Linked DNA regions of Homo sapiens: region 2 is linked to region 1. The links come from fine-mapping of genetic effects on gene expression. Tissue or cell type: thyroid. Region 1 holds a variant in brackets; the other region holds the start of a gene. All regions are shown on one strand. Distances are from middle to middle.

What was found. PIP is the estimated chance that this variant, and not a neighbour inherited with it, causes the effect.
Region 2: it holds the start of C10orf90, and the variant in region 1 is fine-mapped to the expression of C10orf90 in thyroid (GTEx, PIP above 0.99).

The regions. Positions count from the first base shown.
Region 1 is chr10:126,696,430-126,711,819 of GRCh38, forward strand. No RefSeq gene overlaps it. Among named protein-coding and RNA genes, the nearest start is that of C10orf90, 33 kb to the left of the region's middle. The variant G/A (reference allele first, on the strand shown) is at 8,269.
Region 2 is chr10:126,664,384-126,679,773 of GRCh38, forward strand. It overlaps C10orf90 (chromosome 10 open reading frame 90), which reads right to left and starts at 6,310. Exons shown (of 10, transcript NM_001350921.2): 1 at 5,858-6,310. The coding sequence starts at 6,097. RefSeq lists a silencer at 8,336-8,558 and an enhancer at 12,485-13,025.

The sequences.
Region 1 (15,390 bases):
ATCAAATTCTCTCAAAGTGGCTTGGTAATCAAAATAGCTTTGTCTCTCAAAGACAGGGAGACTCAGTCAATTAGCCCTGAGAGACCAGTCAGGAAGGAAATATAGACTGAAGCCTGCCGTTTTGGGCCAACCAAGACAGAACCATGTGCATGGGTGTGATCTGAGTCTGGGCAGCAGAGAGAGCAGAAAAAAGCAGTTTGGCAGCAATAATGAAAGGGGAGAGGAAGATGCCAGAGCACCTTACCCAAGCTCACCTGCAGTTACTATAGTTAGAATCCAAAAATACTCTTTTATTCTAACTATAAATCCTGCATTACTTAGGCAGTCACACTGGCTAGTATGACTGTGTGCATCAGTGATACATTGGATGATGCTTTAGACAGTGAAGCACAAACATCCAGTGGCCTCTTATCCACTCATCTTTCTTGACACTAGAAACTTCTCCCAGGCCGTCAGCTTTACTCACTCTGCCTTCTTTTTTTCTTTCTTTCTAATTTACCAGCTGTTCATGAATGGCCTCTGGAGAAGCCTTTAGTGACACACTGCCAATTGTCTTCTATGAAAAAGCCCAAGTCCTCATGATGGGAATTTCCAAATCTTAGTGCACTCATGCCTCAGTTCTAATTAACAGAATTTTAAAGTTCAAAGGAACTTTATATGAAAGGACCATATGGCCCAAATTTACAAGGTAATCCTCACATCAAATATTCTGTTTAATTTGCAATGAATCTATTCGCATTTTTGTTTCAGAAAAATGTTTCCCTTCAGGCCAGCCATGGTGGGTCACACCTATAATCCCAGCACTTTGGGAGGTCAAGGCAGGAGGATTGTTTGAGCCCAGGAGTTCAGGACCAGCCTGAGCAACATGGCAAGACCCCATCTGTACAAAAAAAAATCTTTAAATTTCAGGTGTGGTGGTGTACATCTGTGGTCCCAGCTACTCGGGAGGCCGAGGCAAGAGTGATATGGTTTGGCTGTGTCCCCACCCAAATCTCATCTTGAATTCCCACATGTTGTGGGAGGGACCCGGTGGGAGAAAATTGAATAATGAGGGCAAGTCTCTCCCGTGCTGTTTTCATGATACTGAATAAGTCTCACGAGATCTGATGGTTTTAAAAAAAGGAGTTCCCCTGCAAGTTATCTCTCATTTTCTGGCTGCCGCCATCCAAGTATCATGTGACTTGCTACTCCTTACTTTCTGCCATGATTGTGAGGCTTCCGCAGCCACGTGGAACTGTAAGTCCAATTACACCTCTTTCTTTTGTAAATTGCTCAGTCTTGGGTATGTCTTTATCTGCAGCATGAAAATGGACTAACAAAAAGAGGATCACTTTAGTCCAGGAGTTTGAAGCTGCAGTGAGCCATGATTGCACCACTGCACAACAGTCAGGGTGACAGAGTGAGACCCTGTCTAAATAAAAAATATTCCCCTTCCTTCTCCTGAGGATCAAAGAATAAGTGTGGACCCAGTAGCTAATCTCAAGAAGCTTACAGCCTAATGGAAGATTAAACAAGTACATCTTAGTCAGGATTCCTCAGGTTACAAATGACAGAAACCCACGTAAACCAGGCTGGACAAAGAGAGGAACCCATTGGCTCAAGGAATCCAAGGATAGTTTAAAGATTCAATCTGACAAAAATGCAAGAACTCATCAAGGAATCAGAACCAACTGGGTTCTCCATCCAGACTCTTCCTCTGCATACACCAGTGAGGTTTAATTTATTACTAATAAAATGGGAGGATAATGTCTACCTTAGACGTCTGGGGTAAAGATTACATTTTAAACACCTCGAGGAAGTGCTGAGAATCATGCAAGGAAGGAGCTCAATAAATGTCTCTATTTTCTCTTATAGATGTTCCACAGTACTTGTAAAACACTGAGCACCAAAATGCAGCAAATCCCAGGAACAAAGAATTTGTTACCGCATATACTTTAGGTAGGATGAAATGGAAAATGGAAAACTGAAGAAAAGGGGGAAAACAGAGATAAAGAAACTTTTGAGTAATTAGGGAGAATCTTCCAGGCATCTTCCAGTCCAACAGAGATATTCTTTCTTCAAAAACCAAAGCGGTATATTCAATTTCTCCCCATCCCAGGAAAGTTGCAGGAAATTATCTTGAAGAAAGTGTTATCAAAAAGGAAACCACACTTCCTAAATTTCCAACAGTTGCACAATAGCTAAAGTATTAAAATGGAATATGTAGAGCTAGAAAAATAGGAATACATTTATAATGCCTATGGATCTGAGTTAGAAAACTTTTATAGATTCAAGAATGAATTTGGAACCACTTAACTGAGAACTCTCTGGAATTAGCATATAAAAAATAAGCAAGTATTCTGAAATCAAGAAGCATGGACTGAAGCTGATTAGTACATTAGGAGTAGAAAAACTCATGAAGATTAACGTGGATGCAAAAGGGCCCAGAACAAAACTGCCTCCACCATCCACAGCTAAGGATTCACCAGTAACCTGATAAAGAAAGATCTGAAGGAAATAATGTGAAATGATGAAAAACACATTTTTTAAACTGTCAAAGGTGCTAATTAGAATATTTTTTTAAAAACTGAAATGTCTAAATGAAAACATGTAATATAAACTTGTACACACAGAGAAAGCTGTTTAAATGGAGTATGCTAAAATAATAACAATGGTCTGTTTGTAGGGTGGCACTATAGACAACTTGCTCTTCATTTCTTTTCTGTAATGAATATGCATTACTCTTCATTAAAAAAGATTTTAGGAATAGACAGTTCTCAAAAGAAGATATACAAATGGCCAACAAACATATGAAAAAATGCTCAACATCACTAGTGATCAGGGAAATGCAAATCAAAACCACGATACAATACCACCTTTCTCCTGCAAGGATGGCCATAATCAAAAAAATCAAAAAACAGCAGATGTTGGTGTGGATGCGGTGATCAGGGAACACTTCTACACTGCTGGTGGAATGTAAACTAGTACAGCCACTATGGAAAACAGTGTGGAGATTCCTTAGAGAATTAAAAGTAGAACTACCATTTGATCCAGCAATCCCATCACTGGGTATCTACCCTGAGGAAAAGAAGTCATTATACAAGAAAGGAACTTGCACACGCATGTTTATAGCAGCACAGTTCGCAATTGCAAAATCATAGAACCAACCCAAATGTCCATCAATTAATGAGTGGATAAAGGAACTGTTGTATATATATACAACGGAATACTACTCAGCCATAAAAAGGAATGAATTAACGGCATTTGCAGCAACCTGGATGAGACTGGAGACTATTAATGTTAGTGAAGTAACTCAAGAATTGGAAACCAAACACCACATGTTCTCACTGATATGTGGGAGCTAAGCTATGAGGATGCAAAGGTATAAGAATGATACAATGGACTTGGGGACTTGGGGGGAAGAGTGGGAGGGGGTGAGGGAAAAAAGACTACAAATAGGGTGCAGGGTATACTGCTCGGGTGATGGGTGCACCAAAATCTCACAAATCACCACTAAAGAACTTAGCTGGGCGCAGTGGCTCAGGCCTGTAATCCCACCACTTTGGGAGGCCAAGGCGGGTGGATCACCTGAGGTCAGGAGCTCGAGACCAGCCTGGCCAACATGGTGAAACCCCATCTCTATAAAAATACAAAAAATTAGCTGGGTATGGTGGTAGACACCTGTAACCCCAGCTACTTGGGAGTCTGAGGCAGGAGAATCGCTTGAACCTGGGGAGGTTGCAGTGAGCTGAGATTGCACCATTGCTCTCCAGCCTGGGTGACAAGAGCGAAACTCTGTCTCAACAACAACAACAACAACAAAAAGAAAAGAACTTAGTCATGTAACCAAATACAACCTACCACCTGTACCTCAATAATCTATGGAAAAAAATAAAAAAATAAAAAAGTTATAAGGGAGGTAGTCAAAAAAATAAAAAATAAAAATAAAATAAAGTTATAAGAGAGCTAGTCAAAAATAAAAGAAAATAAAAAGAAAAAGGAATACAGTATAAGTAATGGGATGTCACTTCTAATAGTAGGTTACAAAAAGACTTCCATCTTGAATTTTTTCTTGCTTTCTTGCTTTGAGGGAAGCCAGATGCCACATTGTGAGCTACCTTTTGGAGAGGTCCATGTGGCAAGGAACTGAGGGAGTCCTGTGATCAACAGCCAGCAAGAAACTGGACCCTAGTAACAGCCACATGAATGAGTGTGGAAAAGGACACTCACCCATCCAAGGCTTTGGATGAAAACCCTAACCTTTGCTGATAGCTTGACTAAAACTTTAAGAGATAATTTGAGCCAGAGAAAACCCAACTAAGGGCCAGGCATGGTGGCTCATGCCTATAATCCCAGCACTTTGGGAGACCAAGGTGGATGAATCACCTGAGGTCAGGAGTTTGAGACCAGCCTGGCCAACATTGTGAAACCCCATCTCTACTAAAAATACAAAAATTAGCCCGATGTGGTGGCATGTGCCTGTAATTCCAGCTACTCGGGAGGCAGAGACAGGAGAATTGCTTGAACCTGGGAGGCAGAGGTTGCAGTGAGCCGAGATCACACCACTGGACTCTAGCCTGGGTGACAGAGTGAGACTCCGTCTCAAAAGAAAAAAAAAAAAAAACCAACTAAGCTGTGCCCAGATTCTTGACCCAAAGAAACTATAAGATAATAAATGTTTGCTATTTTAAGTTGCTAAAAAAACAAAACAAAACAAAAACTACTTTAGGAAAATGTTTTAAAATTACTTCTGTCATTGCTAAGACAGGGACATGGAAAATCAGACTGAAGTTTCAAAAAAAGTACCCAGAACATAAATTTGAAGGCACAACATTCTAACTAACACCTACTGGGTGTTCCAGTGGCCAGGCACAGTGTAGAGAGAGGGCTTAGTGTAGAGGACCAGCACATTTCATCTTCACAACGACCCCACAGGTTGATGCTATGGCTCCCCCCTATGCTATAAAAGGATAAAGTGAGGCACAGAAAAGGGAGTGATGTGCTCAGGGTCACCCACCTGGGTAGAGGCACAGCCAGGACGTGGACTCAAGTCCATCTGACCTGGGAGAACACACCCTCTAAACCTCTACTGGGGCAACTCACTCCATCAAAGCCCATCGGTTCACATGAGATGTTCCATTAAAACTATTGCAAAAAATCATTCATTCAATTCTCATGAGAGTCCTGGGGCAGGTACAGAAGCTATGTCTCAAAGAAGTCAGGCTACTAGACCACACTCACACAGCTGGTAGGGGTATAGCACTCATGTAGCCCTCCTCTTTCTACACTGTGGCCACAACACTCATCACCAGGAGAGCTGGCATTCCAACTGTGCTCTTCCCACCCAGGATCAGGACTTTTGTTCAGGAAATTCAATAGCACATTCAACAACTCTCCACAAAGCACTGCCCCGGGGGCTGATCACCAGGGATCCAAAGACAGAGCTTTGTCAATGTTCCTCTTTCAAGGGGCACACATTCTGTTGGGTTACACACATAAGGCACACACAGTCATAAGGTGATATGACAATGATTGTGATGATGGCAGCTGTAAGATTTACATGTTTTCCATGGAAGACCCAGGAGAGTGCCCAAGAGGTCCAGACAATAAGAAAAGAAGCCTGTTAGACTCTGTTGCAAGCCAGCAACAAAGATTGATTCTCTTGTTGAATTGAAGACAGTACCCCAAGCGTCTGTAAACAGAACACAAGGAAGAGATTCAGCTAAACATGGAATCCAGAGGTGCATTCTTCCTTGCTCCACCTCCCATCCTCCCCTGTAATCCGGTTAGCACCCTGTTAATCTTAGCTTTGTTCATTGGTAAGTGCATTTTAGCCTATGGGATATGCATGCATAATGCTATGCAGAGCACAAGCATGGGAGCCAACCTTCTTTCTGATGTTTAGACTCCTCATTCCTGACCTCATGCTCTAGAAGGGCCAAATGCAGCTGTTCCTCAGTGGTACTGAGTCAGATCTGTGGTTAGCCCACAGGATGCTGATCCAGATGGGTAGAGAGGAAAGAACAAGGACACCGGGAGCTGGGCTCCTGATTTCAATTCTGTTCGTGACTGGGTTATCTGCCCTCCCTATACCTTTTACTCCCTTTTCCAAAATAAGTGGTCTTGAATATTGGACTCACTAATTTTATAATTGGAATTAGTCTTAGAGCTGGCTGCCTCCTATATTGAATGCAAGAGAAAACCAAAATATAAAAGAGTCAAGCAAAATACTCAAAGCCACATAGGGAATTAGGGATACCCTTTCTATTAATTCTAAGTGGACACTGTCTGGGTGTAAAGGATCCCATTCTAGGGATTACTTCCAGGACGAGAAGCAGAAATGGGTTGAGGAGCCATGGCTTCACCTGCAGCTCAGGGAAACCTGGTCACTGGGGGGCCCAGAGGTCAAAGACGTATACTTCTCCTTCCCTGCTCTGCCCTCACCACCCTTGTTGTGATTGGCCCCTTTCCCCTGCACATCTCTAGCCAAGTTTCCTGCAGTAAATTCAAGCAAGGAAATGCTGATTTCTGGCTTGAAGGAATAAGGGAAGATTGTGTAGTCTGCAAAGCTAAAAGTGACTCCGCCAACCAGAAATCAGGTCTCAGCAATGTCATCTGTTGTATGGAACAGAACAATGAAAGCCTCAGTTTCTTTTCAGTGAAATAGGACTAATGTTTGCCTTATTCACCTTAGAGAGTAGCCTGTTAAATAGAAACTTATTCTGACACTTGACAAAAAGATAAGGAAGACTTTATTCAAGACCACTGCAACAGAAGTCATCTCTATGCAATAGGGAAGAGAGTGGGCTCAACTTCAAATATAAGGACAAAGGGGCTTGACAGACAAGAAGCAGGGTAAAGGGTGGGGAAGCATGGGGTTCAGTGGATGGAAAATTACTCAGAAGAATATCAAGGATCAGGGGGTTCTTGCTAAACTCACCTAGCAGGATTCTTGTTAAAGGCAGGCCAAGGACTTAGACCTCAAAGTTGGGTGATGAGAAACTTGATCAGATATCAAGGGTAGTGAGAGCCTTACTAAGGCTGGGCTGGGCAGGTAAAGGACAGGACAGGGGCTAAGCTCAAGGCCTGGTCAGAAGGAGAGGTCAGAGAGCCCAATCAAAGTTTGGCCAAGGAGAGAGTCTTCGTCAAGCCACAGGAATCAGCTGAGACTCTCACTGTAACATGCATGCTAGGAAACTGTAAAGAACAATTCTTATAACTTTGCTATATATATCTTACAGTCATTTGCTATGAGGATTATTTAGAAATAATTTGTGTTTAATAGCTGGTTAAAATACAGTTGGTATTCCAAGTGTAATCAAACCAAACACACAAGATACAAACCCTGGAAGCTCTGAGAAAGGAAGGATTTCACAAGCCAATAATGTTATGACCATCTGATTAACTGCTTTTAGCCATCATCACAGCTAACAGCCAGGTAGTCAGGGACCACTGGGAAGCTGGTCCTATCTAGGCATCTGAGTGATGAGCCCAGCCAGTCACTGGCAAGACCCTTGGGATGAGTCCCACTTCACAGCTGGGGAGGTGGCTCAGGGTTCAGCCCACACAGAGCTGTGTTAATCAATCCTGTACTTCCAGCCTGAGGAAGAACAAAAGGAGGAATAACTCAGAGAAGAACTTTCTCATCCTGTATCAATGTCTTCCTGCTCATTTTAAAGACTGCTGTTTAATAACTGCCAAGAATTTAGGAGGTGATTTTGAATTCTTTCACAGATTTGAGAACATCACTAAGAAAACAGATCACCTGGACCAGATGCAATGCTGCATTTAATGCACTTTTATTCATCCAGGAAGCTTTGAAATGTGCCCAGCAATACAGCAGCAGATGAATTTAAAAGGTCCAGAACCCAGAACCCAGAGAAGCAAACTAAATCTGAGCAAGGGCAGTCATTGGTCAGGGGTAGGCACTAGGCTCTGCAAGTGTGCCGATGGGGTCATCGGTCCAATACACCACCACGCAGACCACACAGGTGTGAACCAATGGAGCCCTTGGCCATTCTTCCACCTGGCACATTGGACGCAGATCTGCTCAATAAGCCATGTGCTTTCCTCACTGTGCAACTTCTCCCTTTAGACTTCTCAAACATGGATGCCTGGTAGAAACAGAACTGCCTGTTATCGTATCTTTGGGAAATTCAAAATTACTAAAGATTACAGATGCATTAACACCATAACGCAAACCACTCACACAAAAATAGGAGGTAAAAGATAAAGTTTTGTTCTAAATGAAGCCCCTCCTTATTCCCCAAACCCAAGGAAAAATTTCTC[G/A]CCCAAGCATGTGATATGCTGCCAGTCTTCTTCTGAGCACGTTCAGTTTATCGTGTCCTGGGGTTATTTCTGTGCTTGCCTCACCCGCCCACTCTACCACTTTTCTTTCAGGGCCCATGGAGCCCTTCTGAGCCAATCAAGACTTAGGTTCTGCTGGCTCTGGATGCAGCCTCAGAATCCTCAATCACTTACCCAGGCAGACACAGCCAGTGAGCCAGAACTGGCACAGAAAGAACTCAATCTGTTGCCATCCCGAGTCTAGACAAGGAGGCAGGGAAAGCCTCGTACTGACTTTGTTTTTATCCCCCTTGGGGCCACAGGAAACGGTCTCAACACTATTCATTTGCCTGCCTTTGCCTTAAGTTCTCACCTGCATTCAAATAAATAAATAAATAAATAAATAAATAAGCCAAATCTTCTTATCAAAAGCAAATAGAGCTTGGGAATGCTCTAATCCAAATGTCCTAATCTTTCTGAGAAGAGAGCATACAGCCAGATCCGGAGGGGCCACCTACCCCGCTTCCCCCTTGCTCACTTTATTCCTGCAGGACACGAGAGCTGCTCTCTCCAGAGGGTAAGGGAGGAGGTGCCAGCCAGCTTCTCCAACAGGTCAGTGTGGTCACCTTTTGGGAAACCCTTGACAGAATTCCACCTTCACAGATATCTAATCCTATAGAGCTATGGTTCCCCCAAAGATTTTGGATGTGAACAGTGGGGGCTCTTGTTTATCCTCCAGAGTGAACCCACCAGGGGTTTTCAAAGCAGAGCCTCAGCAGTACCGGATGCCACCTCACTTCTGTAAGGAGGAAGGATGTGGGGAAGCCCCGGACCATATAATGGGTATGAATTCCTACTGGGAAATGCTTTTTCTTCTAGATGTAAAATATCCAAAAGAGACTGTGATCCTCCTCTAATAGACATCCATGAAATAACCTGTGCGATCTATTGAAAGCATGTTCTCTGTACTGAACTTACAGGTGGAGGCTGGCGGCTCTTGGTCTAATAGAATCAGAATCATCTGGAGGGCAAGGATGGGAACAAAAGAGGCTTACGCTTTTTGAAATAGTTTTGAGCACTGAAGAGTTGATTCCATTAAACCGCTGAGTCTAATAAAAGGAAACTCCCTTCAAAAAGAGGCAACACAAGTATTTATATGAAAGGGGAAAAAATACATCCCTCAGGAACTAAGCAATAAACACATGTAAAAATGTGATAAGGAGACATTAAAAAATCACTGTGTTACACTCAGCTAGTTTCAATGACTTTAGTACTACACAAACAGGAACAAATCCGTGGATCAAGAACAAACCCCAGGCTGCCAGTGCACTTTCCAACTAGCAAAGCCAGAGTGCTGTCTCAAGAGGCAGTGTCTGGAGCCTGAGAATCCAAGTCCACTCAGTGTGTTGAGATGGCCTGGCTGTCCTTCACAGTCAGAGGTCACCTGGTTCCAGTGGTTTAGCAGGGCAGAGTGCCCAGGAGCTGCCAGCCCTGATGCCAGAAGTGGGGAGCTGCTGTGACCAGATACAAGGTCAAACAGGCAGTGATGCAGAGTAGGAGCAAGATTGGGTTTAGAAACCAGAACCTGGGGACCGCTGTGAGGGCAGAGCCAGCAGGGCCAGCAGGCAGGAGGCCAGAGAAGCAAAGAAGCTTGCCAGCCAGGCCACTGTACCTGCTGGGGTGGTATTTGGTTATGGCAGGATCTTTCCAGAGGCATGCTCCACCCCACCCTACCCTCAGACCCACTGCCTCTGTTCTTGAAGACACCTGACTCCACACCCAGGACCTGCAAGGGGTCATAGAGAGGAGGACCTGCCAGCTGCCTCTCTATGTGGGGTGGGAGCAGCTGACACAGGGACCGCTCTGAGGAGGAGCACGGAGGCCCACAGCCAGTCCAGACACCCACTGATCCAGGGGCAGTGAGAGCAAGTTGGTGCGACCACAACCTCTGTCACCTGAGGCCAGTGGTTTACAACTGGACACAATTTTGCCACCCCTTTTCCCCACCCCCCATTTGACAATGTCTGGAGGGATATATGGTTGTCACAACTTGGAGGCACAATGGGCCTCTGGTGGCTACAGGCCAGGATGCAGCTAATACCTTACAATGCACTGTATGGCCCCCACCACAAATAATATCCGGCCCTACACATCAATAGTGCTGACACTGACGAAGCCTGCCTTACACCAACCAGTAGGTCATGAAATGTTTCAGATGCAAAATGGTGCTGCACTTCACACATAGTGAGGACATTGCTGGAAGCCTCTGCCTTCCTAGAATTTCTTCTTTGATTTCCAGATATCCCGTAAAGCTGTGCGAATGTCCCGATTCTCAATCATACTGTGAAAAAAGTGATCTGGAGGGTCTCGAGACCCGGCTGACTGCTTCTATTTCACCCACCAGACTGTTTCCATACACGTGGGGGGAGATACCCCGAAGAAAACCAATTTAGGAGAAATGAATATGAATTATTCACTCCCCTTACAATGAAAAAAAGAAAGCTGCAACTTGACTAAACAGGGGCCGTTACCCTTTGAAAGATATCTTCCCTTTTGTCTGATTCAAAGTAGCCATTTTTCATGTAAAATATAAGCTAACCGGGGAAATTACATTTCTACTCTTTTATAATACAGATTAGAAAGATGAAGAGAAATCTGCCATAAACAATAGAAAAAGCCATTATTCAGATGAAGAGCAGCCTGCAGGAGGCCAGTTTGCTGGAGATGCAAGACCTGTAAGCAGCAAGTGGCTCAAGAGCAATAATTCTCAGGCTGGGCTACACATTAGAATCACCTGAAAAGCTTTAGAAGCACCTGCCAAAGCTCAGGCCACACCCCTGAATAATTATATTAAGATAAAGACCGGGTTCTCAATAGCTTGCATCAGAATCCCTGGCTGGCTTGTCACAGCTCAGCCGGCTGGCCCACCCCAGGGTCTCCACTCTGTAGGTGAGGGTGGAGCCTAATAAGTTGCATTTCTCTCTCTCTCTTTTTTTTTCCTTTTTTTTTTTTTTTTGAGACGGAGTCTCGCTCTGTCACCCAGGCTGGAGTGCAGCGATGCAATCTTGGCTCACTGCAACTTCACCTCCTGGATTCAAGCAATTCTTCTGCCTCAGCCTCCTGAGTAGTTGGGACTATAGGCACGTACCACCATGCCCAGCTAATTTTTGTATTTTTAGTAGAGACAGGGTTTCACCGTGTTGGCCAGGCTAGTCTCAAACTCCTGACCTCCGGTGATCCACCCACCTAAAGTGCTAGGATCATAGGCGTGAGCCACCGTGCCCGGCCATAAGTTGCATTTCTAAAAGTTCTCTGGTGCCTCTTGTGCTGCTGGTCTGGAAACCTCACTTTGAGACCCACTGCTCTCGGGGAGAGATCCAGGTATTACAGGAAAGGGGTCCCGATCCAGACCCCAAGAGAGAGTTCTTGGATCTCACACAATAAAGAATTCAGGGCGAGTCCACAGAGTAAAGTGAAAGCAAGTTTATTAGGAAAGTAAAGGAATAAAAGAATAGCTACTCCATGGAGCAGCCCCGAGGGCTGCTGGTTGTCCATTTTTATGATTATTTCTTAATGATATGTTAAACCAGGGGTGGATAATTCATGTCTCCTTTTTTAGATGATATGGGGTCACTTCCTGATGTTGCCATGGCATTTGTAAACCGTCATGGCGCTGGTGGGGAGGGTAGCAGAGGATGACCAGAGGTCACTCTCATTGCCATCTCGGTTTTGGTGGGTTTTAGCCAGCTTCTTTGCTGCAACCTGTTTTATCAGCGACGTCTTTATGACCTGTATCTTGTGCAAACACTTATCTCATCCAGTGACTTAGAATGCCTTAACCATCTGGGAATGCAGCCCAGTAGGCCTCAGTTCATTTTACCTAGCTCCTATTTAAGATGGAGTTGTCTGGTTTACATGCCTCCTCAGGAAGATGGATTTGAGGTTTCCTCCTGTCTCCTTGTTTGGTGGTCCTATGATTTGTGAAAAAAAATACATTTGGGGCCCCAAAATCACTCAGCTAAAGGGAAGAGTCAAGCTGAGAACTGCTTAGGGCAAACCTGCCTCCCATTCTATTCAAAGTCACCCCTCTCTCACTGAAATAAATGTATATCTGATGGCCTCCTTTGGAGAGGCTAATCAGAAACTCGAAAGAATGCAGACATTTGTCTCTTACCTACCTATGACCTGGAAGCCCCCTCTCCACTTCCAGTCATCCTGCTTCCAGTCATCCTGCCTTTCCAGACAGAACCAATGTTCATCTTGCGTATGATGACTGATGTCTCACGTCTCCCTAAAATGTGTAAAACAAAACTATGCTCTGACCTCCTTGGGCACATGTCATCAGGCCCTTCTAAGGCTGTGTCACAGGTATGCGTCCTCAACCTTGGCAAAATAAACTTTCCAAATTAACGGAGACCAGTCTCAGATATTCGGGGTTCACAGATAAACCTGTTTCTCTGCTGCAACCCAGTGTCTTGGTGTATTGCCTTGCTCTGTATATTGGGCAATGGTACTTGTTATTGTTACAAAGTAACATCACGCATAAGGTGAGGTGACTGATAGCAATAGCACTGGGGGCAGCACTAGGGCAAATGTTTGAAGTTTAGTGGTAAGATGCTCGTTTATTAGGAAAAAGGACTAGTGATCTATGACTCTGATAATATTGAAGAGGTGTTACAGAAGTGGCACAATGTGTGAAATACAGATATAATGCAAAGATCTAGGCATTCCTGACCAGGTGCACTTGCTGAACCTCAGTTTACCCAGCTACAAAATTGTTGACTGAGATCTCTTTCAAGGTCCTTTCCACTCTCATCTTCAACAATACATGTGTATATTGAGATGTTAAAATAATCGACTTTTTTGAAAGCAAGCCATGCTTGTTTTAAACACATTGGGAAATTCAAAGGGACATCAGTAGTTATCTTTAAATGATATTACCAATGATACAAGTTTCTTCTTTATTCTGTCATATAATTTTGCAAATTTTGCAAAAAGTGATATGTAGTATTTTTATAAATCAGAAAAAATTAACTACAGCAAACACACATACAAATACAGAAATATCAGTGTCCAAGATACACAGAAACAAATCATGTGAGAAGGCCACAGATGATTTGGGATTGCTAATGAAGTTCTTCTCCAAGTGATATCCCAAATTGATAAAACGTGTAAATATCAATGCCTGAAGGCTCAATAAGATGCTAAAAGAAATGAGTTTATTCTATTTTCTAGAATACAAAATTGGTTTTTCTCTTGCCTTGAAGTCTGAAATCATGCTGTGTTCTATCTTTCCCACCAGCACTTTTAGCAGGCTGTGGATGTGACTGAACTCAAAGCACACGACACTACAAGTTTTTTTTTTTTTGAGACGGAGTCTCGCTCTGTTGCCCAGGCTGGAGCACAGTGGTGTGATCTCGGCTCACTGCAAGCTCCGCCTCCCGGGTTCACGCTATTCTCCCGCCTCAGCCTCCCGAGTAGCTGGGACTACAGGCGCCCACCACCACGCCCGGCTATTTTTTTTTTGTATTTTTAGTAGAGACGGGGTTTCACCGTGTTAGCCAGGATGGTCTCGATCTCCTGACCTCGTGATCCGCCTGCCTTGGCCTCCCAAAGTGCTGGGATTACAGGTGTGAGCCACCGTGCCCGGCCAACACTACAATTTAAATACGGTGTTTTGGAGTAAAATAAAAACTAAGCAGAGACTACCTTGTCTGGCCATGACAGAGTAACTGGTGTCAGATGTACCTCCTTGCTATAAATAGGTGTTATGGACTAAACGTTTGTGTCCCAACCTCAAAACTCATAGCCTTAATCGCTAATGTGATGGTATTTGGAGATGAGACCTTTGGGAGGTGATTAGCATTAGATGAGTTTCTGAGGGTGGGGCCCTGATGGATAGGATAAGTGCCCTTAGAAGAACAGATACCACAGGGCTTGCTTCCCTCCACACACATACACAAACAAGAGGTCACCACCTACAAGTCAAGAAAAGAGGCTGAAAAATAAAACCTATCTTGCTAATATCTTGATCTTAGACTTTCTAGCTTCCAGAGCTGCAAGAAATAAAATTATATTGTTTAAGCCATGCCATTTACAGTATTTTGTTATAGCAGTTTTGTTACAGACTAAGATAACAGCTAGCCACGACACTGAGCAAAATGTATGTGGCAACTGTTTTGAGACAGTAGACAAGAGGCAATGCAGGAGAGTAACCCATGAGAGACAAGAAACATACCAGGTAAGCTGCACATTTTCTAGGAGCAATTTCCAGAGTTCAATATGGGAAGTGAAGTCCAAACCCTGCAGGGCTAAGAAGTTTGGGGTTGCCAAGACAATTGGAAGTTGTGGGGAACATGCAAGGAGAGAGGAAGTGGGAGCTCGCCTCTGGTTCTTTAGCAACAGCTGGACTCAGCATACACAGAATAAGCCTGCGAAATTTAGCAAAGAGCTAGGAGATGAACAAGATGCTGTAGGTTACACAGAGCCAGGCATCTAACAATCGGAAAAAAGGTCACAGACAGGGAAAGGGGCAAAATCAGGGTGTACCCCATGGTGCTAGATTGGAATTGGAGTGGTCATTATGCACTGATGCATATACGCATGTATTCATGTATGTGTGTGTGTGTGCACGCATGTGTGTCTATGCACAAATACACATATATACACACACAGAATATCTATAAAAATAAACATATTGGCATACATATGTGCTCGAAGTATATGTATTTGTATGTTTATGTATATGCATGCATGCATTTCTTAGCTCTGTCCACTGAGAAGATCTAGAATCAGTGACACACCAGTAGCAACGAGCATATCTGCTGTTTAGATTTTGGCTTCTAAATACCATTCTTCACTAAAAAGAACAAAGAATCCTAGGCTGATCTCAGGGATGGGACAAGTAAAATACAAATAAGACTGTGGCATCATATTGTACCAGAAAGCAAGAAATTGCTCAAAGAATGATGGGGACATATCAAGAGGACATAGGAGCCACACAGAGCTTTCAGTGACTAAGTCTGTGACAATTTGAGCACCAAAATTTATAATATTAGTAATGGTTAGTAACTCATCAAATAAAATAAGAATACATGAGTCCGTAAACAAGTAGATGAATACATA
Region 2 (15,390 bases), 32 kb before region 1:
AGCCCCAAGACTTAACCCTTTATATAGGTTATCTCTTGTAATGCCCCCAGCAACGCTATAAGGCAGATATTATCATTTTTCCTATGAACACAGATGAGAAAACTAGGCTCAAAGAGAAGAAAATTGCCAAGGTCACTTAGCTGGTGAGAGCCCAGACAGCCTCAACCCGGTGCTCTTTCTCTTAACCACACCACCACCTTTCATCTGCCGTCTCTTCTCTCCCTTAGTTTGGCTGAAATGTGGATATGGTCTCCCCACAAGTTCCCAATTCCCTGGTGGAAATTTACCAAAATGATGTCAGATAGACCTTATAAGCCTTAGCTGCCAATGCCCTGGGTCAGCTCACACTTGACCTCTCATTAAATACTGTCCATTGTAGCGAGATTGGAGACCTCACTCACCAGATTTCAGATATGCCTCCTGATGCAACAAAACTGACTTCAGACCTCTAACTCCTCACACCTCTTTAGGACCTTGCCCTCTGACAGGCAGCTCCAGTTGACAGGTGCAGGGAGGGCTGGAAGAATATGGCGACAGGGCAGCATTGAGACCCAAGTACAGCCATTTCATTTCCCTCTTGGCTCTTGGACTTCTCATGTCTGCATTTGAATGGAGGCCATCAGCCATTGCCAGTGGAGGCTGAGCTGAGGCTTCTAGGAGGAGCCCCAGCACCCACCAGACAGCAGGCAAGGCACAGGAGTGAGGCAGGGGCTCCCAGCCTGTTGGCAGAGTGGCAGAGCTCATGGAAGTCTTTATTGCCCTTTGTGAAACAGCCTTTTCTCAGCCCTCCTCAGGCTGGAGGTAGAGTCTTCACTGCAGTCAGAGCCATAAGCACATCACAGCAAAAATACTGCTTGGAGGCCGGGACTTCAGGGGGAAAGGTGAGACTCCAAAAGCTTTGATCTGGCTAAGCTCTTCAACTTGGTCTGGAAATAGGGAAAATTGTTTTGCACCTTTTGATAACTGTGAGAAGAAAGGAAATGTTCGCTTTACCTCCTGTTTGGTCTCAGTGACCTCTTTATTTCCTGAATCAAGTTCTCTTGAAGCCCAAGTACTTAACTTGAGTGCTTTTATTTTACAAGACTGAACGGTGTACTCCAACCACTGGAAAACATTCATCAAAGCCCAGAGCTAAGTTTCCAAACTATGGTGGGATATTGAAACCACTCTGGGAGACTTCTTCTTCCAGCCATGATAGAGTAACCAGACAACCGCTAGGAAACAATGATTTCCAGATATTGAACAACAAGCAATGCAGCACTATGACCCCTGAGAGGAGGAAAACAAGAGAGGTGAGTCCTACAATTGTCCCCACCTGGAGGCAGTGTCCAGGCTGCAGCTTAGGAGGGGAAACTCAGCTGAGCCTGGGGTCTTTGCTGAGTGGAGGAGGTAGAGACGGAAATTAGAGAGGCCAATGTAGCTGGAATTTAGGAAGAGGAGAACTGCAAAGGAGAATTCCAGCAGCCTGCAGGGAACTTCCCAGGTCTTTGCCTGAATACTGATCTGCACCTGCCCAAGAGAAAAATACCTGAAACCAAGAAAAGAACTTCCAGAAAGTGGTAGGTCACATCATTCAGGAGCTATTTGGAAGCAATTTAGGTTCCCGCCAGCCCAGGTACAAACACCTTGTCACACATGAGACATCAGGTAGAGTCCTCAGAAGGGTCATGTTGTAACACTGGGACTAAATTAGCCCACATCAGGGTTTCTAGGCCTCAACACCATGGACATTTTCAGCTAGGTAGTTCTTTGTTGCGGGGTTGAAGGTGGCACTGCCCTGTGCATTGTAGAATATTAGCTGCATCTCTGGCCTCTACCCATTAGCCACCAGTAGCATTTTCCCCAAGGTTGTCACAACCAAACTGTCTGCAGACATTACCAAATATCCCCAGGGTATTTCAACAAGCCCAAACAAATCGAAAAAATAAGCCTCAAAAGGGTCAAGCTGTTTTCAAATAACTTAACAAAATCAAACACCAAACAATGTAAGATTCACAATATCCAAAATTCAATTTTAAAATTACCTAGTGTGCAAAGAAGCATGACCCATAATCAGGAGGAAAATCAATCACTAGAAATGATGCAGAAATAACAGATGCTGATAAAATGAGGAGACAAGGACCTTAAAGCAGCTCAAGAAGGTAGAGGAAAGCATGAGCACGAGGAGGGGTGTGGGAGATGAAAGGAGTCACCTGGTAAGTGTTCTTCCTTGTTTGTCATTGCCAATGCCTTCACGCTGCTCTGGGCCCACTGAGTCACAATGGCCATGGCTGCACCAGAGGCATATGCAGTTCTTTAAAAAGTTCACTATGAGGCCAGGCACGGTGGCTCACACCTGTAATCCCAGCACTTTGGGAGATCAAGGCGGGCGGATCATGAGGTCAGGAGTTCGAGACCAGCCTGGCCAATATGGTAAAACCCCATCTCTACTAAAAGTACAAAAAAAATTAGCCGGGCATGGTGGCGGGTGCTTGTAATCCCAGCTACTCAGGAGGCTGAGGCAGGAGAATCATTTGAACCCGGGAGGCGGAGGTTGCAGTGAGCCAAGATCGTGCCACTGCACTCCAGCCTGGGCGACAGAGTGAGACCCTGTCTCAAAAAAAAAAAAGTTCACTATGATTCTACTCAGCCAGAATTCAGCACTACTGGCTAAACCCAATTTTTTTTTGTTTGTTTTGTTTTGTTTTGCTTTGGAAACAGAGTGTTGCTCTGTCGCCCAGGCTGGAGTGCAGTGGCACAATCTCGGCTCATTGCAAGCTCTGCCTCCCAGATTCATGCCATTCTCCTGCCTCAGCCTCCCGAGTAGCTGGGACTACAGGCACCTGCCACCACACCCAGCTAATTTTTTGTATTTTTAGTAGACACAGGGTTTCACTGTGTTAGCCAGGATGGTCTTGATCTCCTGACCTCGTGATCCACCCACCTCAGCCTCCCAAAGTGCTGGGATTACAGGCGTGAGCCACCACACCCAGCTGACTAAACCCAATTTTTTAAAAGAATGAATAGAAAAAGGAGATGGAAATGATGATGGAGATTTTGAAAAATATCAGGAGGCATGGCCAAATAGTGATTTCCAAATACAAAATCTTTCTTTGGCTCATTTAGTGATTAAAGGCATTAGAAACTGTCGCCTGTCAGAGGACAGATGGGTGAGCCTTAGCTGATGCATCTCAGCCTGCACCTACCATCAGAAAGGTCTCCACAATCAATCAGGAGATGCTCACTTACATTCACACCATAGGAGATATGAGCACATCACTGAATTCTATGAGGTTTCCCTTCCCAAGCTGGCAAAACCACGCAAGCTCTGCTGCATAGAGAGTCTCAGAAAGTGTCCCTGCTTGCCATGCGGACAGAAGGCAGAGCTCCAATATAGGCTCATCCCATCCTCCAGTTATGGCTACATTGATGTCTGAAATTCATCAAAAACATACGCAGGGGGAGACATGCCCTTAACAAACTGTATTTCTCAGAGTTTGGGGCATTTTTAGAGTGTGCAGACATCAAGTCTTTGAAAATATGAACCCAGGGACCTTCAGCACCCCTCACCACCACCTGCTCCCAATCCTGGTAACTTTCAGTGCAGCAGGCTCTGCTCCTTGTTCCTATCAGAAGGAAGTCTATGTAAAGGTATGCGTGTGGCTGGATCATCCCTGGGCTGCAGTTCAGCTGGTGAGAGGTGGCTTCTCCAACCATTAAGACAGCTCAGGACTAAGACCATGGTTTTGGAAAAATTTGAGTCTGTAGGTTTTACACTAAAATCAAGCAGATTTGCAGGACCTCATGGGAAGAACTTGAAATCCATAAGGTTTTTACAGAAATAAAATCTCCAAAACTCACTTTTGCCAGATAACCAGCCAGTTTCTTTAATCTAGCACCTTTGTGCATTGAGAGTTCATCCCAGAGACCCTGCTCATTTGTCAGCCCATTGAGTACTTTGTGGTCAAAGCCCAGGGCAGGTTAACCAATGGCCTTGGAGCTGATAGAAGAGAAGGAGTCACTGGGCCAAGTCCAAAGGCAGAACCCAGAAGTGCTAATTGGGGTCTCTCAGCAGTTCAGCTTGGGAAATTGAGCAAGGAAGTTTCCTTCTTCCTAAATTTCCTAATCTAAATAATGCTGAGATGTCATGGTAGGAATAACATGAAGAATAGTTTAATGGATGAGGAATATTTTAAAATCGGAAATGTTTGCTACCAAAAGTCAAGAGCAGACCTTGAAGTTCAGAGGGACAGGGGGTGCAAATCCCATCTGATGGTTTTCAAACTTGGCCCGCCCTAGAGCTGAGGAGGCAGGCCCTTCCTGGACAACTTGGGGAGTCATGGACACAGTGAGGCCCATCCAGCCCATCAGACTGATTGTGGGTGGGGGCTTGGATCTGGCATTCATTTTAACATTAGTGGCTCGGTTGTTGGCTGTCAATAGTAGCAGCGTATTGGGCCCTGAAAAAAATGTAGCTGTGACTGTCATATATTTGAAGTTTTTTGTAACCTCCTAAAAAGGTGTACTTTTTTCATATTGTTTTAATCAGTGTGGCTATAGGAATCAGTGAAGTTTTATATACGAAGAAAACGAGAATGCCAGATCTACCATTTGCTACATAGGGTTTAAAATGAAGCTATGAACAATGCATAATAATGTAATTCAACAAGTTTTTCTCTCTCTGGAGGACTGGAAAATAACCTCAGTGAAAATTATGCAATGATAAAATTCTGTCCCCATCTGATTAATTACTTGTGAATAATGACATCTCTGATTTCTTTCAATTATATTCTAATTGCACACCTTTTGCTCCAGTTGATTGGGCAATGAAGTAATGAACAACTATTACTGAATTTAATTAGCACCATTATTTCTGTGGCCTTTACATCTCTGTTGTGAACATGGAAATTCACACTCCCAGGGCTGGAACTGGAAGAAGCCAGCCTTGAACCTTGAAAAACCTGTTCCTTCCACACTGTGCTGGCTTCCTTCTGCCCAGCCTGGGGAACAAAGACCTGGCGTATTTGCCAGTATTCATGGGAAGGCTTTCCTAATAACAGCATCAATATTCAGAAAGGTTACCTTTTCATAAGGCATTAGCAATTTGCATGTTACATCTATCAAAAGAGATGGGTAAATGAGCTATATGGGAGTCAATTACAATGTCGTTCATAATTTATTCCATGTACAATAAACAGCCGATCAGATTTCATGCGTGTTTACTTTCTGAAAAGATAACTGCTTGTGGCTGATACTAGTTGCAGAATACAAATATGTTTCAGAGTAATGTGTTTATCTCACTTTGACATTTTAAATCTCCAAAGTTCTCTCACTCTCTGTCTTTTTTTTTTTTTTTACAAAGTTGTCTCTGCTTGAAAATTAGAGCTTGCTCTCAAAAATAAAAGATCATTCTTACTGGCCTAACTTGAATCATTCTATTTTAACTCGATGAAGGCACGTCATACATATTCTCCTACAAAACGCAACAGGAAACAAGTAGGAATTTGCTTTTAAAGACAGGTGATTGCAAACATACAGAGCTAAGAATATTTAACTCACAGAAACATGCTGTAGTTTCTAAACATGGATACAAATTACCCAACTCAGTAGTCTTTGGAGCACCAATAAAGTTTGTAAATGCAGACATGTGTCATCGTAAATTAACTTCATCCGATATACTTTCCCCCTCCCCCATATTTCAAAAACTAAAATAAATTCAGAAATGAAGAAGGCTTTTCCAAATCCCTTAGGGAAGTCTACAAACACAAATGATTAATTTATTAGACCAGATAAAACACCTGAACTGTCTGATGAGCAACACGTCCATCTCTCTCTGAGTCAAGCGTGTACCCACTCACCCACCCAGGCTCAGCCATACCTCATATCTGCTGGCTGTCTGCTCAGCCGTCTTCAAGCCTTGACACATATGGATGATACAAACTTTGGCTCTTCTCTGGGAGGGAAACCAGTTACTCTTCACAAAATCCATGACCATCACATGGTTTTTCAACTCTGTACTAAATGTTTTTATCTGGAAAGTCCGATGCACGGCCGTTTCTGTGTAGCGGGCAGCATACCCCTGCGGATGAGTTTTTGTAGGAATTCCAGAGTGCTGCATGAGACTCAGTATCTTGTGACTTTAGCTAGTGAGACTGGCAAACACAATTTTCTTTGTTTAACCCAGGTATTGAGTGCAACAGGAGGGACTTGGGCAGTGCCCCAGCTCGGACCTGTCCCAGTGTTTTCCAACTCCAGAGCTAGTTGTCTCAATATCCCAGCTACATTTGTGAAGGATGTGGATGTGGGAACCTCAGGGGTGACCTTTACGTGCCAAAAAAAAAAAAAAAAAAAAAAAAACTTCTTGTTGTGGTCTGTTTCCAGCCTCACGCCTGAGCTCTCGGGTCACTCAAAGTCTTCTCTGATTTCAAAGAAGTATTTCTCTTTCCACTGCATTGAAGTTTTGAACACAGAATTCACCCAGTTACTGAGAGATTCAATATGTTTGTCAGTCTCTACCCCCTCAAATCCAAATAAATTATTTACAGGGCTCTGTACAAAGGAACTAGGAGGAATAATCGTTGCTTTTTAGAATTCCTGCTTTTACTTGCCAGGACTGAAAGGAACAAGTGCAGGCTGCCTACCAATACAAAGAGCGTCCTCAGCCCTGGAGAAGAAAACATTCAAGTGAAAAAGAGAACTCCCAGCGCAGAAGCAGCAACAGCTGCAAGAGGGCATCGGAAAAACAGCGCATCACGTGGGGGCTGGGGGTGGAGTCCACTCGCCTAGAAGGGGGCTCTGGTCCTGGGTCAACCATGGGAAGTTCCCTCACCACCCTGAGTCTCAGTTTACCAGGAGGAAGACTGGAAGGAAAATACCCCATCTGCCACTCACAGGGTTATTGTTAGGATCTGGTGAGCAAAACAGTGAAACAACAACACAGAATAGAGTCACGTTAGGCATCATTTTGAAAGTACAGTTGCGCGTTCTCTACCCAAATTATTTTGCACAGTGTTCGCTACACATATGATAACGGAGATTAACACAATGCTAATAATTATCAGATTCTAAATTTCAAGTCAATTAGAATTGCAGATCCATGGTATATGCCTCACTTTATTTAATGTTTTGATGCCATTTCTATTAACCTAGTAATTTAGAAGTGAAAATGGCAAGCCTTGGATCAAGGGTGTGTGCCAAGAGGAAGCAGATGACAGCATCGTGGCTGTGCTCCAAGTCCAGACACAGAACTCTTCTCCACAGGTGACTTTCTCTTGGCAGAGACACCCCCTTGAATAATTAACTCACCTGCCCCACATTGAAAGCCATGGGAGAGGCTAAAGGAAGAAGAGCCTCCAGATAACTTTCCTGAAAACAGAGCTGCAGTCCTAGCCCAGAACTGTGAGACTTCCTGCTGTGGGTCGAAGCTTTGCATGTCACACTCAGCAGGGCTAGGACTTGGGGGCTAAAATGCTGAACTTCCACCTTCGGAGCAATGGAAGTATTGAAGATGGGAACTACAATGAAGGAGGAGACAGAAAAGACTTTAGAGATCATTTAGGCCAACATTCTCATTTGAGTGTTAAAGTAGAAGACCTACAGAGACTAAATGCTGGCTCAAGATCACACAGTGAAGTGGAGTTCATGGTTCCTTAAACAGAACACAGCCCGGGTCTGCCTGGGGCTCTCCCAAGGATGTCAAAGAGAGTGTCAACACCCAACTGATGGCATCCATGGCTGACTCAAACCTGACAGTCATGCTGGAAACTCCCAGGGAGCTACACCATGGAGCGCCATCTTGGATTTGGAAGCAATGTGATAAAGAAAGCCATGGGAGACATTTGAGCAATAAAAACATGAAAATTGAACAGGGACACCAAGGAAAGAGGGGATCTGCTTCATGTTTGGGCACAGGGAAGGTCATTCCCTGTGTCCCCAAAAACGCCATTTAAACCAGCTCCCATTTGTGTCTATCTGCTCCTGTCCAGGAGACCCCGCAAGGCAGATAACAAATAATAAAGTCTTTTCTTCCACCACTACACACATTAAAGGACCTTGGACAATGCTGAGGCCAGCAGGACTGGTCATCAGCTACCCCGAGACCAGGACTGGTCATCAGCTACCCCGAGACCAGGACTGGTCATCAGCTACCCCGAGACCAGGACTGGTCATCAGCTACCCCGAGACCAGGACTGGTCATCAGCTACCCCGAGACCAGGACTGGTCATCAGCTACCCCGAGACCAGGACTGGTCATCAGCTACCCCGAGACCAGGACTGGTCATCAGCTACCCCGAGACCAGGACTGGTCATCAGCTACCCCGAGACCAGGACTGGTCATCAGCTACCCCGAGACCAGGACTGGTCATCAGCTACCCCGAGACCAGGACTGGTCATCAGCTACCCCGAGACCAGGACTGGTCATCAGCTACCCCGAGAACAGGACTGGTCATCAGCTACCCCGAGACCAGGACTGGTCATCAGCTACCCCGAGACCAGGACTGGTCATCAGCTACCCCGAGACCAGGACTGGTCATCAGCTACTCCGAGACCAGCATGGAGAGGTTTGCTGATGGTTGGCTGACTGCTAGTGTGAGCACTTGTCACAAGCACAGCCAGCCTGTGGTGATTATGGAGATTCCAAAGATCATTAAGGCTATGGGTGAGTTTTCTCTCTCCCTTGACCACAGCTGGTGGCTGGATCTTAACTGGCCAGTATGGCCAACAAGAGGAAGCAGTAATGTGGCCTTAGGCAGGTCTCTGGGATTCTTGGTCAATAGGGATGGACAGAAGACTTGGGATTGTCAGATTGAATTCCTCATTATATGGAGGAGAAAATTGAGGCCCAGAGGGAGAGAACCTTGACTGAGAGGTCCAAGGGCTGGAAAGAGCACTGGATGGACAATTGGAGATGGGTTTGCACCTAGGCCCTAAGACAAACTAGCAGGTGATTGTGGACAAGACTCCTCCCTTCTGGCTTAAGTTCCCTTTAACCACAAGCCCCCTAGCTTCTCTGACACCCCTGGGTTCTAGAGTGTGTCAATTTTGACCATGTGCAGACACAGCTCAGCAGAGAGCAGTTCCACCCTCCCTGGGAAAGGCCTTCCTGTCTGGGTCACTGAGGTGGGGCTGGGTGCAGAAGAATGAGCTGATGTCCTTCCATCTGCCCTCAGAACTGTTGCTCCTCACCCTCCAGCAGGGCCACAACCTCCACAGTCCAGCCACTGTGCCCTCTTGAAGCACAGCCTCCAAGTAAGAAAACGTGGTTCCTGCTGATGTTCACAGTGCTTGCCTTGCAGCCTTGGGCGAACTACACACTACCCTTGCTTCAGTTTCCCCATCCATTTAAGAGGATAACAATAGTGCCTTCTTTGATGGGCTGCTGTGGAGACTGAAGCAGCTGGCACTAGTAAAGGGCTTGGGACAGAGCCTGGCACCGGGCACCTGCCTGACAGACACCAGCTGTCATCACTCCCAAAGGGCAAAGACTCTAAATTGCCAGACACATCATTTTAATACCAAAGAAGGAAGATTGTTAAGGAGAAGCTGGAACTCAACTGGCCATCCTAAGACCCTATCTCCAAGACTTCCTCTGCCATGTAATGCTGCCCAGAACTGGGGCAGGTGGCCAGCCTTGATCTCCTCAAATGGGAAATAGAGTTAGCATCCCCGGAGCAGACAGCTGTGAACATTGCGTTAGGTGGTTGTTGTGTGTGAAACTGTTTTATAAAGTATATATTTTTAAAACTATACAAGTATAGATTTTTAATGCTAGATGCTAGCAAAAACAACTGAAGGAAGAAGTGCCAGACACAAGCACAAACTAAGCTAGTTCTCATCCAAAGGACAGAAAGTCAGTCACATTTACAGTCACAAAAGAATGGTGGTATTAGGCACCACCATGCCACCACATTCACACATATTGCCAAGGACACTGAACGCTTTTTGGTTTGCCAAGAGTCCCGCTCTTCTGGGAACTCTTCCTCCACATCCATCCCGAAGCCTCCCATATGGTGCCCATAGAAGCTGGCCATGCCTCTGACCTCACTGACTGACCATTGACTGGCCCAGGGGTGGGCACCTGGCCCAAATAGGGCCAATCAGAGCCTTTTGTTTTGATCTAAATATTTGGGTATCCTCCAATTCATATGAAGAAGCCCTAACTCCTAATGTGATGGTGCTTGATCATGGGGCCTTTGGAAAGTAATGAGGGTTAAATTAGGTCATGAGGGTAGACCCTCATGATAAGACTAGTGGCCTCATGAGAAGAGGAACAGAGATCTCTTTCTCTCCCCCACCCCCTCCTCATGAGCATAGAGGAGAGGACATATGGGGACACAGTGAGAGGGTGGCTGATTGCAAGCCAGAAGGAGAGCTCTCATGGGGACCTAGTCCAGCTGACACCCTGATCTCAGATTTCCAGCTCGAAAAACTGCGAAAGAATACATGTCTGCTTTTTAAGCCTCCCAGTCTATGGTATTTTGTCGTGGCAGCCTGAGCTGACTAAGACTCTTGGAGAAACACCTGGCTCACATAAGGCCAATCAGAAAAAGTCTGTTCTGGAGAATCTTGATCCTGGAACTGAGCAAGAGTGGGTAGCTGAGGCTGTGGGCTGGAACACTGCAAGCACTTCTGGCAAGGAGCTGTCACAGAGAGAGGCAGAAGCCAGAAATGGGAGCATGTGGATAGTTCTTGAACCCTGGGTTCTACCCGGCCCACATTCTGCATGTGGAATCAATGTGACTATAGTATCTTTACAATACTCTCCCCTTTAGGCTTAAGCTGTTTGACTTAGGTCCTGTTATTTGCAACCAACAGAGTTTATGTTAATCTTTGAAAATTCATTCATTTATCAAAGAAGCAGAGGTGAAGTGCTTCTGAGCCAGTTACTGTGCAAGGCACTGATGATACAGAGATGAAAGGGAGTTCACTGTTCAGCAATGGGACGGATGCCTTGACAAGCAGTTACTCAAAGCACAATGAATGTTTCCTATGAGAGCATCTGCGTGGTGAGGACACTAAGAAACCTTCATGGGAGAAGGGGTATGGCATCAAGTCTTGACTGATGGCTGCTTTACTGCTGAACCCCCCACAGTTAGCATTGCATGGACAAAAGTCAGCCATAGGACATCACTTTCTACATACTGTTCATACATTTTGTCATAAAGCATTCACAGCCAAGAATGGAAAAGCACTAACTGAAGCCATATTTACTGCAAATAATCAGCACTGTTTATGGAAAATGATTTCCTGAATCTTTTGTGGTTTTTTTCTTAAAGGAAATAACTCAGTCAACTACTATAAAAGTTAGATCTCTGACCTTATTAATGTCCTGCAGAATATCCTATTTAATTTCCCTAAATTGGTCCCTGGGGTGACTAAAACTGTTAACATTGTTAGCAATTGCAATCCAATGATATCAAATCAACATAAATGAGCCTCAAATGTGTTTAGTGTTGAACTATATGGGATATTAATCTCTTACCTCTCCCTTGCCCCTGAGACAATATGCAGGGCTGTATACAATATGCACTGAAGTATTTAAATAATGAATTATTCAAAAAGAAAAGAAACTGCAGGTACCTGATGCCAAAAATCATGCCTGTGAATTCTTAATCTGTTCTCCAATGGGATTAGCATTTAGGACTATGAAAGATATCCTAATTATGCAGAATTTCGGAGTTGATTTTCTGAAGGGCCTGTGCAGATCTAAAAAGCATTAGGCAACAATAAAAACAGATGACTATGAATTTCTGAATTCATAATTTAGTTTCCCTTACGGGAGAAATGACATTTTTATTTATGGGCGCTTTACTCATCAGGTGGGTGCTGAAGTTTTTCTCCTTTCTCCAAGGCACAATGCTTGCTGCAAGCGCATCCATGCAATCATCCTTCTAAAACAGATGTGTGAAATTTACAGGGCTGTGTAACATAGGACCGATGCAATGTATTTTTCCTCTTGTTAGTCCCCACCCGCCGGGTTGCTAGAATAAAACAAAAGAACTGAGAATAATATGGCCAACTAAGGAATCTTTGACCTTTTAATCAAATTAGGAAGAGGATGCAAGTTTGCTTGATGAATTCCATTCCCTTGTTAAATTTTTCAGCTACGAGGGGGAGGAGCCAAGATGGCCGAATAGGAACAGCTCCGGTCTACAGCTCCCAGCCTGAGCGACGCAGAAGACGGGTGATTTCTGCATTTCCATCTGAGGTACCGGGTTCATCTCACTAGGGAGTGCCAGACAGTGGGTGCAGGTAAGTGGGTGCGCGCACCATGCCCGAGCTGAAGCAGGGCGAGGCATTGCCTCACTCAGGAAGCGCAAGGGGTCAGGGAGTTCCCTTTCCTAATCAAAGAAAGGGGTGACGGACAGCACCTGGAGAATCAGGTCACTCCCACCCGAATACTGCGCTTTTCCAACGGGCTTAAAAAACGGAGCACCACGAGATTATATCCCGCACCTGGCTCAGAGGGTCCTACCCCACGGAGTCTCGCTGATTGCTAGCACAGCAGTCTGAGATCAAACTGCAAGGCAGGGGCGCCCACCATTGCCTAGGCTTGCTTAGGTAAACAAAGCAGCGAGGAAGTTCGAACTGGGTGGAGCCCACCACAGCTCAAGGAGGCCTGCCTGCCTCTGTAGGCTCCACCTCTGGGGGCAGGGCACAGACAAACAAGAAGACAGCAGTAACCTCTGCAGACTTAAATGTCCCGGTCTGACAGCTTTGAAGAGAGCAGTGGTTCTCCCAGTACGCAGCTGGAGATCTGAGAACGGGCAGACTGCCTCCTCACGTGGGTCCCTGACCCCTGACCCCCGAGCAGCCTAACTGGGAGGCACCCCCCAGCAGGGGCACACTGACACCTCACACTGCAGGGTACTCCAACAGCTGAGGGTCCTGTCTGTTAGAAGGAAAACTAACAAACAGAAAGGACATCCACACCAAAAAACCATCTGTACATCACCATCATCAAAGACCAAAAGTAGATAAAACCACAAAGATGGGGAAAAAACAGAACAGAAAAACTGGAAACTCTAAAAATCAGAGCGCCTCTCCTCCTCCAAAGGAATGCAGCTCCTCACCAGCAACGGAACAAAGCTGGATGGAGAATGACTTTGACGAGCTGAGAGAAGAAGGCTTCAGACGATCAAATTACTCTGAGCTACGGGAGGACATTCAAACCAAAGGCAAAGAAGTTGAAAACTTTGAAAAAAATTTAGAAGAATGTATAACTAGAATAACCAATACAGAGAAGTGCTTAAAGGAGCTGATGGAGCTGAAAACCAAGGCTCGAGAATTATGTGAAGATTGCAGAAGCCTCAGGAGCCAATGCGATCAACTGGAAGAAAGGGTATCAGCAATGGAAGATGAAATGAATGAAATGAAGCGAGAAGGAAAGTTTAGAGAAAAAAGAATAAAAAGAAACGAGCAAAGCCTCCAAGAAATATGGGACAATGTGAAAAGACCAAATCTACATCTGATTGGTGTACCTGAAAGTGATGGAGAGAATAGAACCAAGTTGGAAAACACTCTGCAGGATATTATCCAGGAGAATTTCCCCAATCTAGCAAGGCAGGCCAACGTTCAGATTCAGGAAATACAGAGAACGCCACAAAGATACTCCTCGAGAAGAGCAACTCCAAGACACATAATTGTCAGATTCACCAAAGTTGAAATGAAGGAAAAAATGTTAAGGGCAGCCAGAGAGAAAGGTCGGGTTACCCTCAAAGGGAAGCCCATCAGACTAATAGCGGATCTCTGGGCAGAAACCCTACAAGCCAGAAGAGAGTGGGGGCCAATATTCAACATTCTTAAAGAAAAGAATTTTCAACCCAGAGTTTCATATCCAGCCAAACTAAGCTTCATAAGTGAAGGAGAAATAAAATACTTTACAGACAAGCAAATGCTGAGAGATTTTGTCACCACCAGGCCTGCCCTAAAAGAGCTCCTGAAGGAAGCGCTAAACATGGAAAGGAACAACCGGTACCAGCCGCTGCAAAATCATGCCAAAACGTAACGACCATCGAGACTAGGAAGAAACTGCATTGACTAACGAGCAAAATAACCAGCTAACATCATAATGACAGGATCAAATTCACACATAACACTATTAACTTTAAATGTAAAGGGACTAAATGCTCCAATTAAAAGACACAGACTGGCAAACTGCATAAAGAGTCAAGACCCATCAGTGTGCTGTATTCAGGAAACCCATCTCACGGGCAGAGACACACATAGGCTCAAAATAAAAGGATGGAGGAAGATCTACCAAGCCAATGGAAAACAAAAAAAGGCAGGGGTTGCAATCCTAGTCTCTGATAAAACAGACTTTAAACCAACAAAGATCAAAAGAGACAAAGAAGGCCATTACATAATGGTAAAGGGATCAATTCAACAAGAAGAGCTAACTATCCTAAATATATATGCACCCAATACAGGAGCACCCAGATTCATAAAGCAAGTCCTGAGTGACCTACAAAGAGACTTAGACTCCCACACATTAATAATGGGAGACTTTAACACCCCACTGTCAACATTAGACAGATCGAGACAGAAAGTCAACAAGGATACCCAGGAATTGAACTCAGCTCTGCACCAAGTGGACCTAATAGACATCTACAGAACTCTCCACCCCAAATCAACAGAATATACATTTTTTTCAGCACCACACCACACCTATTCCAAAATTGACCACATACTTGGAAGTAAAGCTCTCCTCAGCAAATGTAAAAGAACAGAAATTACAACAAACTATCTCTCAGACCACAGTGCAATCAAACTAGAACTCAGGATTAAGAATCTCACTCAAAACCACTCAACTACATGGAAACTGAACAACCTGCTCCTGAATGACTACTGGGTACATAACGAAATGAAGGCAGAAATAAAGATGTTCTTTGAAACCAACGAGAACAAAGACACAACATACCAGAATCTCTGGGATGCATTCAAAGCAGTGTGTAGAGGGAAATTTATAGCACTAAATGCCCACAAGAGAAAGCAGGAAAGATCTAAAATTGACACCCTAACATCACAATTAAAAGAACTAGAAAAGCAAGAGCAAACACATTCAAAAGCTAGCAGAAGGCAAGAAATAACTAAAATCAGAGCAGAACTGAAGGAAATAGAGACACAAAAAACCCTTCAAAAAATTAATGAATCCAGAAGCTGGTTTTTTGAAAGGATCAACAAAATTGATAGACTACTAGCAAGACTAATAAAGAAAAAAAGAGAGAAGAATCAAATAGACGCAATAAAAAATGATAAAGGGGATATCATCACCGATCCCACAGAAATACAAACTACCATCAGAGAATATTACAAACACCTCTACGCAAATAAACTAGAAAATCTAGAAGAAATGGATAAATTCCTGGACACATACACCCTCCCAAGACTAAACCAGGAAGAAGTTGAATCT